Linked DNA regions of Homo sapiens. The protein of the gene in region 4 purifies or fractionates together with the protein of the main gene of each other region. This does not show direct contact. Each region holds a gene or a part of one and is shown on either strand. Other genes may lie near its edges.

Region 1 (3,500 bases), on a different chromosome or scaffold from region 4:
TATTAGCTATTTATCTTATGATTATTGATGTACAGGAATTTCATCTGTATTCTGAACACTATAAATTTCAAATACTTTCTCTTAGTCTGTGACTTACAAACATTTATAATGTTTTATTATACAGAAATTAAAAATTTTAATAAAGTACAGTAGTTTTTGTTGTTATTGTTGTTGAGGAGGGCGTCTTGCTCTGTTGCCCAGGCTGATCTTGAACTCCTGGCCTCTGGCAGTCCACCTGTTTTGGCTTCCCAAAGCACTGGAATTACAGGCATGAGCCACTGTTCCCAGCCAAGATCAAAAAAATATATATATATGTATATATACATATATATATACACACACACACATATATGCACACATATATACACATATATATACACACATATATACACACATATACATATACACATGTATATATATACATATATATACACACATATATACACATGTATATATATACATATATATACACACATATATATACACACATATATATACACACACATATATATATATTTTGTCCCCAAAGCAAAGCTATATAAGAAAAGACATACATAGATACATATATTTTAGAAAGATGTATATACATACATATATACATATATGTGTGTGTGTCTGTCTGTCTGTCTTTTCTTATATAGCTCTGCTTTTACATCTTTAGGAAATTCTTCCCTACCATGGAAGTCATAGATATTTGCTTATAAAAATTTTAAAATTTTGCTTTTCACTTATTGTTAATTTGCTTAGAGTTTTTTTGGTTATGGCATGAGATAAGGACCTACTGTTTTCTCCTATGGATATCTAATTACACCGGTGTCACTTACCGAATGATCCTTCCTTTTCTGTTAGCAGTTGCTACATCGCATCTATCGTGTGTTAAATATCTAATGTGCTTGGGTCTGTTTCTGAGGCATTTGTTTTATTGATCTGTCTGGGCCTGCATCAATTTGATGTCTGGTAGGGTGAGCTCCCCTATCATTGTTGGTATTCTTCAGGAGCGTCCTGGCCATTCTTGGCCTTATATAAATTTTACATGGAATTTAAATATATATATAATACATATGGAAATTAATTTTTAAAATCTTGTTGGACTTTTAATTGAAATTGCATTGCATTTATGAATTAATTGAAATATACCTAATTAATTGCAAAACAAAAATGTTTGAGTGTTTAAAAGAATAAATTACTAGGTTTTACAAAAATTATTTGTCAAGAACAGCCAATTTCCCAAGGGTTCTGAATACTCAAGGTTTTACTATATTAAGTGAATTTGAAAAGCACACCATTTAAAATGTTCATTCATATATTGGGGTGATTCAGAAAATTAAGTGTTTAAGCATCTTTCATTTTTCATTATGCTTGCTAATTTCTTCATCAAGTATTTATTGATTGCTTGTTTTATGTAGGACCTTCTGCTATAGAATATAACAGTGGTTCAAAAATCCCAACAGCCATTGGTAGAGCAAATGTTCTTATTTTTGTAGTGCATTATATATGACATAATTCACATTTCTTAGGTGTACCTCAGTTGATGTTGGAGGAAAATATTCCCCATGTTTGCTGTGTGTCATGTGTCAGATAGCCCATTCTTTTCAAATTTGCCTCAAAAAGTCCACCTAGTGTTCAGAAATAATGGAATGTTGACTCTTTTTCATCTAATCAGGCTGGACTAATTATTTGCTAAAATTCATTTTTGTCTCTCTCTAGAGACTTGCAGCCAATACAGGAAGCAAACAGCGTAGTCGCCTCTCTGTTATGGCTCAGTACCTCTGCAATGTTCGACACATCTTTACGATTCCAGGACAAGCTTTTGTCCCCAAACCAGAGGTAAGTTTCTGCTTATTTGTTGTAGTATATCGGAATTAGGACGTTTGTTCCCCTGAGGATGTGTCATAGGAAATAACCTCTAGGATCTAACCTTTGTTTATGTGCAAACTGACACTGTACTTTACTTCTGAATAAGAACCACAAAAATCGTAATATGAATAGCTAGTTCTTACTATAATTGTTCTCCTTAGGTAGGGTGACTAAATGTTTAGGTTCATGCATGTTATCCTGGTGGCAGTATCATTCATCATCTTCATCTTCATGATGTTACTCTTAAAGTATCCCTGTATGGAAGATAAGTTACACGGTCACCCAATATTTGAGAAAAGAAATAAAATACTTTTGTGTTTTCTGTTAGAGACCTCTAACTAAAGCTACATCAAACATTATTTACTTAACACTTTTTTGGGAGACCTTATTATGGTAGTGTTATTTGTGGTAAATCATCTGTGGAAGAAACAGTTGGATATTAAACTAGGCTTTGATATTATATGCTAGTTATGTGAGTAAGTGCTAGTTACAGAAACAGAGTTTCTCTGCCAAAAATTAAAATTAAAAAAACCGTTGTCTGTTTTAGCAAAACCACTGCTTGGTGAGTTATTACAAGATGTGTACTATTAAAAACTCATCTTTTTCTTCAGTGAATGTATATTGAGCATTTACTGTTTGAAAATGCGTTGGGTAGCAAGGGGAGTCTACAGGGATATGAGCCTAATCCGATACAGAGTCTGCCTTCAGGGAGTTCACAGCCTCATGAGGAATAGAAATTTCTCACTGGTCCCTAAAACTCTCAAATATAAGGTCTTGCAGAGTGTCCCTTGCATCATGTATCCTTCATAAATAACAAGAGATAGCATGGAAAAAAATGCATTATGTGACTATAGATTTAGATATAGATTCTAGATTTAGAATGGAGACCCTAACCAATAGTGTTAGATCTACTTGTCTGTCTTGAAGACGCCTAAGTGATCTCCATGCTCTTTGCTGCCACCTTCATACTTCTTTGCCATTTGGCCAGTTAGCTGAGCGTTCAGGTGACTAGGAAGTCAGGCCATCTTCCCCTTACGTAACAGACATAATTGTCAGCTTTTTCTAAATCGAGCTCAGGGAGCTTGCTATCGGTGCCACCTCCCTTCAGCATCTCAGACTTCAGAGACATTGCGAATGACTTCTCCTAGAATAATTAGATCCAAGACAGAATTTGATGACTGGAGGTATCTTATAGGTTATCTTCAAATTTAAAACATTTGTGCTTTCAGGGACTTTCTCTCCTAGTACAGGTGGCCATTATAATGAAAAAAATAAAAATAAAAAACCAGTGACCATGTAGCTTGATTTCTTCTTGTCATGCACATGTGTGTGCATATAACATTTTAAATAGTGTAAGACTCATTATATCAAAAACCAAGATCCTTACTCATAGGCCTCTATAGTTATGGTTATGACCATTATCCAGAATCTCCAGGCTATTTAAGTTTTACTAACGGGTTCTTAGGATAGATATTCGAATATTTTTAGTGGAAGCTTTCTAACTCTGTTTTAGTTACCTAGTTGAGATTATTTGATGGAGTTTCGAAGTTATTATCCACTTTATCTTTGATTTAGTGGTAAGGTACATATGTAGTTTATCAATTAAAATTTACCTTCTCTGGGATTAAGGCCACAAGAAAATA
Region 2 (3,500 bases), on a different chromosome or scaffold from region 4:
GGACCGTTGTAAAGTTTGGCTGGACTTTTGTTCCTGCAGTGGAAGGAGTGTAGGGCTCATCCTCTGGTGAGCCCTGACTGTGATGAATGTCGGGCAGTTGTCGAAGGCGTCTGACACAGCAGGCCATGTGCGCGGGACAGGCTGCCCCTGCCTGAGTGGGCTTTAGGGGCAGAAGAGCCTTGGGTTGAGTCCTGACTGTAGCTTATTATATGACCTTGGGCAATTTACTTGACTTTGTTTTTTTAATTGAAAAAAATTCTCTTTTTTTCCTGCCAACAAAGACCCAGAAGAGATACTTGACTTTTCTAAGCCCCAATTTTCTCATCTTTAAAATGAGGATAACACTGATGCCTCACAGGGTTATGAAAGAATTGAGATTAGGTTCTAGTATGTATGCCTGGTATATTAGTAAGCAGTCAATAAACATAGCTGTTTTTCTTTTCTATTTTTTTTTGAGACAGAGCCTCGCTCTGTTGCCCAGGCTGGAGTGCAGTGGCGCAATCTTGGCTCACTGCAACATCTGCCTCCCAGGTTCAAGCGATTCTCATGCCTCAGCCTCCCAAGTAGCTGGGATTATAGGCATGCACCACCACGCCCGGATAATTTTTGTATTTTTAGTAGAGACAGGGTTTCGCCATGTTGGCCGGGCTAGTCTCAGACTCCTGACCTCAGAAGATCCACTCGTCTCAGCCTCCCAAAGTGCTGGGATTACAGGCGTGAGCCACCACGCCAGCCTGCTATTTTTATTTTCATTATTAAAAAGATGAGTCTGGGGAGCTAAGCTATGAGGACGCAAAGGCATAAAAATGATATAATGGACTCTGGGGTGAGGGATAAAAGACTACACATCGGGTACAATGTCCACTGCTTGGGTGACGGGTACACCAAAATCTCAGAAGTCACCACTGAAGAACTTATCCATGTGACCAAATACCAGCTGTTGCCCAAAAAACCATTGAAATAACAATAAAACGAAATTTAGAGAGATTAAGTAAATTGACTATGGTCACCTAAATAATCAACGGAAGAGCTTGAATATGAACCCTCTGTGACTCTATGCTATAACATATGGGTGTCGTATATATTAACAACATGGACAAAACTGATGGCTGAATTTTCCTGGGGAAAGTTACCTGTAGAATGCATGATAAATGCATTAAAAACTTATCTGTAGAATGCATGATAAATGCATTAAAAACTTCTGCAGTTTTCTCGGGGACATAAGAAAAAAAAAAGAGTGTGGCGGCCAAATACAGGATAAATCTGGGGGAAGACCAAAGGCAGAGAGTCTCAGGAAGTGCTGTTGCTGGAGATTTGGACTTCATGGGGAGGGAGTGTGGGAGTGGAAGGTGAGGGCTGGCTTGTTGGACCCAGAGGACAAGTCCACCGGGCAGTAGATCTGAGGTGCTTGTTAAACACAGACCTGGACCGAGGTCTGGGGGCGGCCCTGGAATCTGCTTTAATAAGCACTTCAGCTGTGCTGGTGGTGTGGGGGGTTGTCAGGGTCTTTCTTTGAGAAAAGGTGTGATGCGGCTTAGGGACTGATGTGTGTGGGAGACCAGAGAGGAGAGGAGTCAGCAGTAGTTTCAAGATCAAGGCTGGGTGGCTGGGGAAAGCTGGTTTAGGGGATTCCTCATGAGTACTGTAGAGTTTGAGGGGACAACAGGGAATCCAAGTGAGCTTACACTTCACCTGCCAGCACAGCTTTTTCAGAACGTACGAGTGGATGCGATTTTTGAAGTTTAGCTCAGCTGAGGCCAGATAGGAAGAGTGACTTGAATAGTATGGCAAATTAGGAGCGGAGCTGGGATTAAACCCCAGAATTAGGAGCGGAGCTGGGATTAAAACCCAGAATTAGGAGCGGAGCTGGGATTAAACCCCAGAATTAGGAGCGGAGCTGGGATTAAACCCCAGAATTAGGAGCGGAGCTGGGATTAAACCCCAGAATTAGGAGCGGAGCTGGGATTAAACCCCAGAATTAGGAGCGGAGCTGGGATTAAACCCCAGAATTAGGAGCGGAGCTGGGATTAAACCCCAGAATTAGGAGCGGAGCTGGGATTAAAACCCAGCTTTCCAGGCCAGTGCTTGCTGCCGCCTTCTGGCGCTGCTTGATAGGGACTGAGAGAAGGAGGCGGCCGGGTAGAGTCTTTTCCCATCTCTGGGGCTGCCCCCGAGGTCGCCCCTGGCTCCAGCCAGCCTGCCCTCTGCCCTCGCCCAGTACCAGCTGCCCGTGGAGGCATTGGTCTTTCCGCTGAAGACTCACTTCTCTAGTAGGGCTCTCTAGCTCAGAGATTTCTTTTGCATTCTTTCATTCAAGACCCACTGGCCTTCAAGGATCAGAGTCCAGATACGTTTTAGCTGCTGAGTCTTTTAAATCTGTCTCCCTCCCGAGGCACATGAAAGGCTTCTCTTCTTTCCAGTTAGAGAAGAGGCTGGGCTACTCCATTGTTTTTGCTAATGCCAAAACACACGCCTTCCCATCTGCTGTTTACGAAAGGGTTAACAGTGTGTCTTTTCAGAAACTGATTTTAATGTTCAGCCTCTTCAACATTTATTGATGACTGTGATATAGAAAGTTTGTTGGGTCTAGGACACAGACACAGATTGCACCTTAAGTAGTTTATAGTTTAATGAGCTTCCTGGTAACTTTCTAATAATTAAAGCAAAATGGAAAGAGTGTAATAATATCAAGTGTTGTTGCAAATGTGGAAAAACATGAGTTTTTATGAACTTCTAGGGGGACTGAGAAGTAGGAAAACAGTTTGGTGCCTGCTAAAGTGGAAGATATCCAAGGAACCTCTGACCCTGTGCAGATCTGTGATATGTCTGCAAAACACAAACCTCTTGATCAGCACTGGTTTTTTTTTTAACCCTTGTTGATTAATAGAGAGTTTTAGGTTAAATGAAAAAAATCACTTATACCAAAAATACACCCATTTTTAAACTCCCAAAATAGGCATCATAACCCTCTTGAAGTGAATCCTCGAAGACTATGAAATTCTTGGTAAGTTTTGCTGGTATCATGGCATCTTTTTCCCATGTTCAGTCAGTCTGTTAGAGCAGAAGTTCACTGAATTAGGATAGCCTGATCCACTTTAAGCACCCAAGAGTTTGCTAGTTCTCAGAAGTGTGTGTTTGTCACCTGAGGATAGTATTTTTGGTATATTTGCCCAGTGACGCAGCATTCCAGGCTGAGATTGCAGAATGGCTCATGGAGCCCTTGTGTAGGGAAGCCTCTGACTGTGTTTCTCCTCTGTTCTCATCACGGCAGTCATCCTCACGGAAGAAGGCTTCTGTGACAAAGGTGTGGGGGGTTTTCCCCATACAGCAAGCAGTGGACACCGACTGGGTGTCCTCTGATTCAGTTCCGATACCATCTACTTGGAGATAGTGCTGGATCCCAAAGGTTGGGGGTTCAGTCCCCCAGACGGACTCCCCCCACAACAGCAGTCGAAAGTATGGGCCTCTAGAACTTATGACCAACTGGCTTCCAGTTGGGA
Region 3 (3,500 bases), on a different chromosome or scaffold from region 4:
TTTATTTTTCCTCCAGATTATAAAGTCCTTGAGGGCATATGCTCTTGACTGGCTTAAGAGTACTGCATGCCTCTGTTTCCCATGAAAGCTAAAGCTAGGGTAGGCCCATTTGCTAAAATGAAGTATGGCTCAGTGTGGCGGTGCACACCTATAGTCCCAGCTGCTCAGGAGGCAAAGGTGGGAGGATCGCTTGAGCCCATGAGTTGGAAGCTGCAGTGAGCTATGATCGTACTGCTACACTCCAGCCTGGGTAACTGGGTGAGACCAAAACATGAAATGAAGTGTGAAAAATAAAGTATCTTATACCCTTTTAGACATGGAGAAGGTTGCTCTTGATTATACTAAATTCTGGATTTGCTTCATATGTATTTTTCAGGTAGCTTATTTAAAACTCGATGTACCTCTTGTGGAGTTGTGGCTGAGAATTACAAGAGTCCAATTTGTCCAGCTTTATCAGGAAAAGGGTAATTATACCACACTACAGAATAAGTATAGGTTGTTTTCTCCTTTAGGTTGAACATAAATGTGAGGAAATTGAACATTCATCAAAGATTCCCATGGATATTTATGAGAAATAAGACTAAATACAAGGCTGGGTGCAGTGGCTCATGCCTGTAATCCCAGCACTTTGGGGTTACAAGGTGGGGAGACTGCTTGAGTTCAGGAGTTCAAGACCAGCCTGGGCAACACAGTGAGAAACCTGTCCTACAAAAAAACAAAACAAAACAAAAAACCACAAAAATTAGCTGGGTGTGGTGGCACATGCCTGTAGTCCCAGCTACTAGGGAGGCTGAGGTGGGAGGGTTATTTGAGCCTGGGAAGTCAAGGCTGCAGTGAGCTGAGATCATGCCACTGCACTACAGCCTGGGTGACAGAGGGAGACCCTGTCTCAAAAAACAAACAAACAAACAAAAAAACTAAATATAGCCATGTGATAAAAGAAATATTTTGCTCACAACTTACAGTGTTAAGTGAAAACCACAGGGTCCTAAATTTGTACACACAATGAGTTCGTGTATCTGTATATAGTTAAAAGACCAGAAGAAAATACAACAAAATGTTAATAAGGAATATCAGGAGTGGAGGGATTATGGGTAATTTTTAATTTCTTCTTTATATCTTTCTGAATTTTCCTATATTTCTATTATGAACATGTACTATTATTACAATGAGGAAAAAATTTGAGGGTAGACACAATATTGAGAAAAATTCCACTCAGCCTTTTAAAAACAGTATAAATTGTATAAGGACTATATAATGTCATTGCAGAGGATACAAATGATGATGATGATGATGTATAAAGGTAAACATGAAGTTCCCCCTTGGCACACCCAGCCACTCCAGCCCTCCCCACACATGCATTCCCTCACTGGCAGTACAACCACTGGTGATTTTTTTTTTTCTGAGACAGGTTCTTGCTCTGTTTCCCAGGCTGGAGTACAGTGGCACAATCACACCTTACTGCAGCCTCCAACTCCTGGGCTCGAGCAATCCTCCTGCCTCAGCCTCCCAAGTAGCTAGGACTATAGGCACACATCACCACACTCAGCTAATTTTTGTATTTCTGGTAGAAATGCAGTCTTACTGTATTGCCGAGGGTTGTCTTGAACTTCTGGCCTCAAGCAGTCCTCCCACTTTGGCCTCACCAAATGCTGGGATTACAGGCATGAGCCACTGTGCCCAGCACCACTGGTAATTAATGGCTTGGGGTCCTTCCTTCTAATGCCCTTCCAAGTGAGCATGTATTAATTAGGAGTTTTATACCACATACTGCCAGGCAAATATACAAACTGAGTTATGTTGTTTCTTTATTTTTTATTATGCCAATAACAATCTTTCTTTTCTAATATTATTTACTTCAGTGCTCCAGAACCTGGAACTCAAGATGCCAGCATCCCAGTTGAGAAACTTCCCCGGTAGGTAGAAAACTCTGATTTGTACTGGTGTTCCAGGTTACCAAAACAAAAAAAAAAACAGACATCAAAACCTAAACATGTATTTGGCAAGACGCCTCTTAAATCAAATGCACAAATGTAAAAACCAGGCTTGATCTCTGAGACCAAAAGTGAAAGGACAAAGGATGAACCAAATTAGGATGAAAAGAATGATTTTTTTCCAACCTCTTTTTGCTTTGTGTTGTGGTAGGATCATTTGAGGTCGGGAAAGTTTCTGAAGCTGTCGTGCGACAGGTGGTTACCCAGTGTACAGAAAGCATAGGGGCTGACCTGTAACTGGTCAAATAACATCACTGGCATTATTAATCCAGGGTTAGGGAGGCAATGAAAGGACCTGAATAGGAGAGGTTACAGGACCAAACAGAATGTTCATAGATTAAAAAAAAAAAAAAAAAAAAGGAAGATTTTTATGCCAATTTTTCAAAACCAGGCATTAAAACAGCACTTCTATAACCTGTAATTGGATTAGAAGTTTTTTTGTTGTGTTTATTTTATTTTATTTTTTTTTGAGATGGAATCTCACTCTGTCACCCAGGCTGGAGTGCAATGGTACGATCTTGGCTCACTGCAACCTCCACCTCCTGGGTTGAAGTGATTCTTCTGCCTCAGCCTCCCGAGTAGCTGGGATTATAGGCGCCCGCCACCACGCCTGGCTATTTTTTGTGTTTTTAGCAGGGATGAGGTTTCGCCATGTTGGCCAGGCTGGTCTCGAGCTCTTGACCTCAGATGATCCACCCGCCTCAGCCTCCCAACATGCTGGGATTACAGGCGTGAACCACTGCACCCGGCTGGATTAGAGTGTTTTTAAGGTAAAATAAAACAGCACTTCTAAAAGTGTTTCATAGAACATTAATTTAATGTTACGTTGAGACATTACTTGAAAAAAACATGTTAGGCACTCAAATAAATATGGAAATGTTAGACTAAACAAAGTTAAAATATGTTTGCTTTACTGCAGGACTTTTTAGAGCATTTAATCCACATTGCTGCCTTCTAAAAAGTGGTTGTAATACGTATGTTAATGCTTTACTGGCTTATTTAACCACAGAACCTTTTAAATTTTCCTCATGAGGGTTTTAATTGCTAAATATTAAAAGTTTTCTTCTGAAGGAATAGGTAGACCTGGAGGATTCCTGTGATGCAGGAGATTACTATGATGAAAATGGTGTTTGGGGGATGGTTTTAGGAGGTGTATAGAAGGTAACCCTGAGGTAGGAGGGAGTGAAAGAAGAGAGATTTTTAGTAATGGACACAGGAAAGCTGGCTACATACTGGGCCAGAGAGACATGAACCTGAGAGAACATGAAAGGAGGTCATTGATGAAATTAGGGGATGCTTGGGGTGGGAGGCAAATCTGAGTCCAGTATGTCTCCCAGGTCTGGGTGGCTGTGAGCACAAATGTGAGCATAATGAATGAACTGGGAAAGCTTAGCTGAAACAATGTGTCAGCACATCAAGTACATACAGACAAGATAAAAAATAAGGACAGTTCTGCAGGGCGCGGTGGCTCATGCCTGTAATCCCAGCACTTTGGGAGGCCGAGGA
Region 4 (3,500 bases):
TGTTTATTTGGGATAGAGCATTGCAGTGAAAATACATGCCACATGCCATAGTAGACTGTGTGGATATTCGCATATTCAGGGAGGTAAAGGAAGGCAAGGGTTTTGTTTTTTTTTTTTTTTTTGAGACGGAGGCTTGCTCTGTCACCCAGGCTGGAGTGCAATGGCACAATCTCGGCTCACTGCAACCTCCACCTCTCAGGTCCAAGCGATTCTCCTGCTTCAGCCTCCCGAGTAGCTGGGATTACAGGCGCCCACCACCACATCTGGCTAATTTTTTTTTTTTTGTATTTTTAGTAAAGTTGGGGTTTCACCATGTTGGCCAAGCTGGTCTAGAACTCCTGACCTCAGGTGATCTACCCGCCTCTGCCTTCCAAAGTGCTGGGATTACAGGCGTGAGCCACTGAGCCCCGCCTGGCAAAGGTTTTTAAAGGAAAAAAACATAATTGTTTTGAGATAATGATCCTTGGTTGCAAAGATCAATAACAAGATTAATGTCCGTCCAAGGTTAGACAGGCAGTTGCTGGGCAGATTATCCTTGCAGAAGTTTCTGTGTGCGTGTAAGGTTGTCATAGCCTTTGTGCAAGGTTGCAGTTTTGTGTGTGTGTAAGGTTGTCATAGCCTTTGTGCAAGGTTGCAGTTTCGTGTGTGTGTGTAAGGTTGTCATAGCCTTTGTGCAAGGTTGCAGTTTTGTATGTGTGTAAGGTTGTCATAGCCTTTGTTGCAGTTTTTGCCATCTTTAGTGACAGTTTTTGTTATCAGGCATGGAAGTATGAGAATCCTCTCTTCATAGCTTTCCCCAGCTCTATTTGTCAGGTTTTTTGGTTTGTTTGTATAACCCTAATGGCTCCATTTTTATTCTGACAAATTCCTTTTTTTTTTTGAGACGGAGTCTTGCTCTGTCAGCCAGGCTGAAGTGCAATGGCGCAGTCTAGGGGCTCACTGCAACCTCCGCCTCCCAGGTTCAAGCGATTCTCCTGCCTCAGCCTCCCGAGTAGCTGGGGTTACAGGCATGTGCCATCACACCTGGCTAATTTTTGTATTTTTAGTAGAGATGGGGTTTCACCATGTTGGTCAGGCTGGTGTCAAACCCCTGACCTCTTGATCTGCCCGCCTCGGCCTCCCAAAGTGCTGGGATTACAGCTGTGAGCCACCACGCCTGGCTATTCTGACAATTTTCACAATGGAAACAATTTAGGGCACTTGTGTACGGTTGGCTGGGCAACCCACCCGCCACAGGCCCAGCTGCCACTCTGGCCTGAGACATGCATCTTAAGAGTGATTTGGGTGGCTGGCACAGTGGCTCACGCCTGTAATCCCAGCACTCTGGGAGGCTGAGGCAGGCAGATCACCTGAGGTCAGGAGTTCGAGACCAGCCTGACCCATATGATGAAACCCCATCTCTACTAAAAAATACAAAAATTAGGCCAGACGCGGTGGCTCACGCCTGTAATCCCAGCACTTTCGGAGGCCAAGGCGGGTGGATCACCTGAGGTTGGGAGTTTGAGACCAGCCTGACCAACACGGAGAAACCCAGTCTCTACTAAAAATACAAAATTAGCCGGGCGTGGTGGCGCATGCCTGTAGTCCCAGCTACTCGGGAGGCTGAGGCAGGAGAATTGCTTGAACCCAGGAGGCGGACACTCCAGCCTGGGCAACAAGAGGGAAACTCTGTCTCAGGAAAAAAAAAAAAAAAAGAAATACAAAAATTAGCTGGGCACGGTGGCATGCACCTGTAATCCCAGCTACTCAGGAGGCTGAGACAGGAGAATCACTTGAACCCGGGAGGCAGAGGTTGCAGTGAGCCGAGATCGCGCCATTCCACTGCAGCCTGGGCAACAAGAGTGAAACTCCGTCTCAAAAAAAAAAAAAAAAAAAGTGATTTGGCTCAGAGATAAGTGCTTATTTGCCTTGGGATTAACCAGGATGAAACCTGTCAACCTGTGGTTGGGTTACGTTTCCTGTTCTCTAAGTCTACATTTCCTCATTTTTTAGCATCTGAAAGCAGGTGAATTTCCCCAGCCTGATTTTCCAGATGACTACAATTTGGGAGACATTTTCCTAGGAGTGGAGTATATCTTCCATCAGTGTAAAGAAAATGAAGATTACAATGACGTCCTGACTGTAAGCGGGGATGCTGAAATCATATAACCTGGCTCATGGAACATGGGCCTTGCAAAGGGGTCAAGATCACAACCCTGCATCCATGTGTGTCCGTGGGTACCGTAAGGGCTACTGGGGGAAGAACCTGTAAGCAGGGTGTGAGGAGCACCCAGGCTGGGTAGGGACTGCATGCCCCATGCCACAGTTGAAGGAGGGAGAGAACACGCTGTGAAAACACAGAAGCTCCCAGAGAAGCCTTCTCAGCTTTTATCTCTGGAGTAGAGCAGACTATGTTGAGCTAACACAGACCTGCTGAATCAGCTTCTTTCTGAGCTGCCAGAAGTACAGAAGTTGGAGCCTCCACCACCTTCCAGATCTGTTTCTCCTCAGTGTAATCCACCTATGGGTTCTTCCTGCCCACTGCACAGACAAAACCAATTCACTGCAATTGTGGTATTGCAGTAGAGAAAGAGTTTAACACAGAGCTAGCCAAGCAGAAAGGCTGGAGTTATTATTCAACTCAATCTCCCAGAGAACTCAGAGGCTACAGTTTCTACAGGCAATTTGGCAGGCAGGGGCTAGGGAATGCCTGCTGCTGATCGGCTGCAGACGGACCATGGGGTGTCAACGATTTTTGTCCCCTGAGTCCGCCTCTGCGTGGAGCCACGGGATCAGCTGAGTCATGAGTCTCAGGTCCAGGTGGAGTCTGTAGGTTGCCAGAACTCAAAAGTCTGAAAAACATCCCAAAAGACCATTCTTAGGTTGTACTATTGACGTTATCTTATTGGGGAGCAATTGGGGCGGTCACAAATCTCGTGACCTCTGGCTGCGTGAGTCCTGAGCAGTAGGGAATTACAGCAGGGCAAGCTGGGGAAGCAAGGCCTGCGGGCTGGTTCTCCTCAGGACACCTACATCTGAGCAGAATTCAGGCCCCTCCCATCATCCTAATCTTGTGGCCCTTCACAAGCTTCACAGAGGTGGCTTCGGTCTTGAGCAAGGAGGGGATTCGTTTTAGGGAGGGATGATTACTATTCTTGATTTAAAGTTAAACTCTAGATTAAATTCCTCCCGTGGTTAGCTTGGCCTGTGCCCGGGACTGAGTGGGGACAGCCACGCAAGTTAAACTCTAGATTAAATTCCTCCCGCGGTTAGCCTGACCCGTGCCCGGGACTCAGTGGGGACAGCCACGCAAGTTAAACTCTAGATTAAATTCCTCCCGCGGTTAGCCTGACCCGTGCCCGGGACTCAGTGGGGACAGCCACGCAAGTTAGACTCTAGATTAAATTCCTCCCGCGGTTAGCCTGACCCGTGCCCGGGACTCAGTGGAGTCAGCCACACAAGTTAAACTCTAGATTAAATTCCTCCCGCGGTTAGCCTGACCCGTGCCCGGGACTCAGTGG

What was found.
Region 1: the proteins of YBEY (region 4) and TFB1M purify together in Homo sapiens (affinity purification with mass spectrometry; 2 studies listed by BioGRID and IntAct, with this or other methods). This does not show direct contact.
Region 2: the proteins of YBEY (region 4) and TRMU purify together in Homo sapiens (affinity purification with mass spectrometry; 2 studies listed by BioGRID and IntAct, with this or other methods). This does not show direct contact.
Region 3: the proteins of YBEY (region 4) and SIRT5 purify together in Homo sapiens (affinity purification with mass spectrometry; 2 studies listed by BioGRID and IntAct, with this or other methods). This does not show direct contact.

What each region holds. Positions count from the first base shown.
Region 1 is NC_000006.12:155,283,485-155,286,984, reverse strand, and holds part of TFB1M (dimethyladenosine transferase 1, mitochondrial), read left to right. Parts: intron 1-1,707; coding exon 1,708-1,827; intron 1,828-3,500. UniProt on the Homo sapiens protein: Mitochondrial methyltransferase which uses S-adenosyl methionine to dimethylate two highly conserved adjacent adenosine residues (A1583 and A1584) within the loop of helix 45 at the 3-prime end of 12S rRNA, thereby regulating the assembly or stability of the small subunit of the mitochondrial ribosome.
Region 2 is NC_000022.11:46,338,714-46,342,213, forward strand, and holds part of TRMU (mitochondrial tRNA-specific 2-thiouridylase 1), read left to right. Parts: intron 1-3,500. UniProt on the Homo sapiens protein: Catalyzes the 2-thiolation of uridine at the wobble position (U34) of mitochondrial tRNA(Lys), tRNA(Glu) and tRNA(Gln).
Region 3 is NC_000006.12:13,595,101-13,598,600, forward strand, and holds part of SIRT5 (NAD-dependent protein deacylase sirtuin-5, mitochondrial), read left to right. Parts: intron 1-376; coding exon 377-464; intron 465-1,862; coding exon 1,863-1,916; intron 1,917-2,627; exon of another isoform or gene 2,628-2,764; intron 2,765-3,500. UniProt on the Homo sapiens protein: NAD-dependent lysine demalonylase, desuccinylase and deglutarylase that specifically removes malonyl, succinyl and glutaryl groups on target proteins.
Region 4 is NC_000021.9:46,289,342-46,292,841, forward strand, and holds part of YBEY (endoribonuclease YbeY), read left to right. Parts: intron 1-1,992; coding exon 1,993-2,121; coding exon of another isoform or gene 2,122-2,148; exon of another isoform or gene 2,149-3,177; intron 3,178-3,500. UniProt on the Homo sapiens protein: Single strand-specific metallo-endoribonuclease involved in rRNA maturation.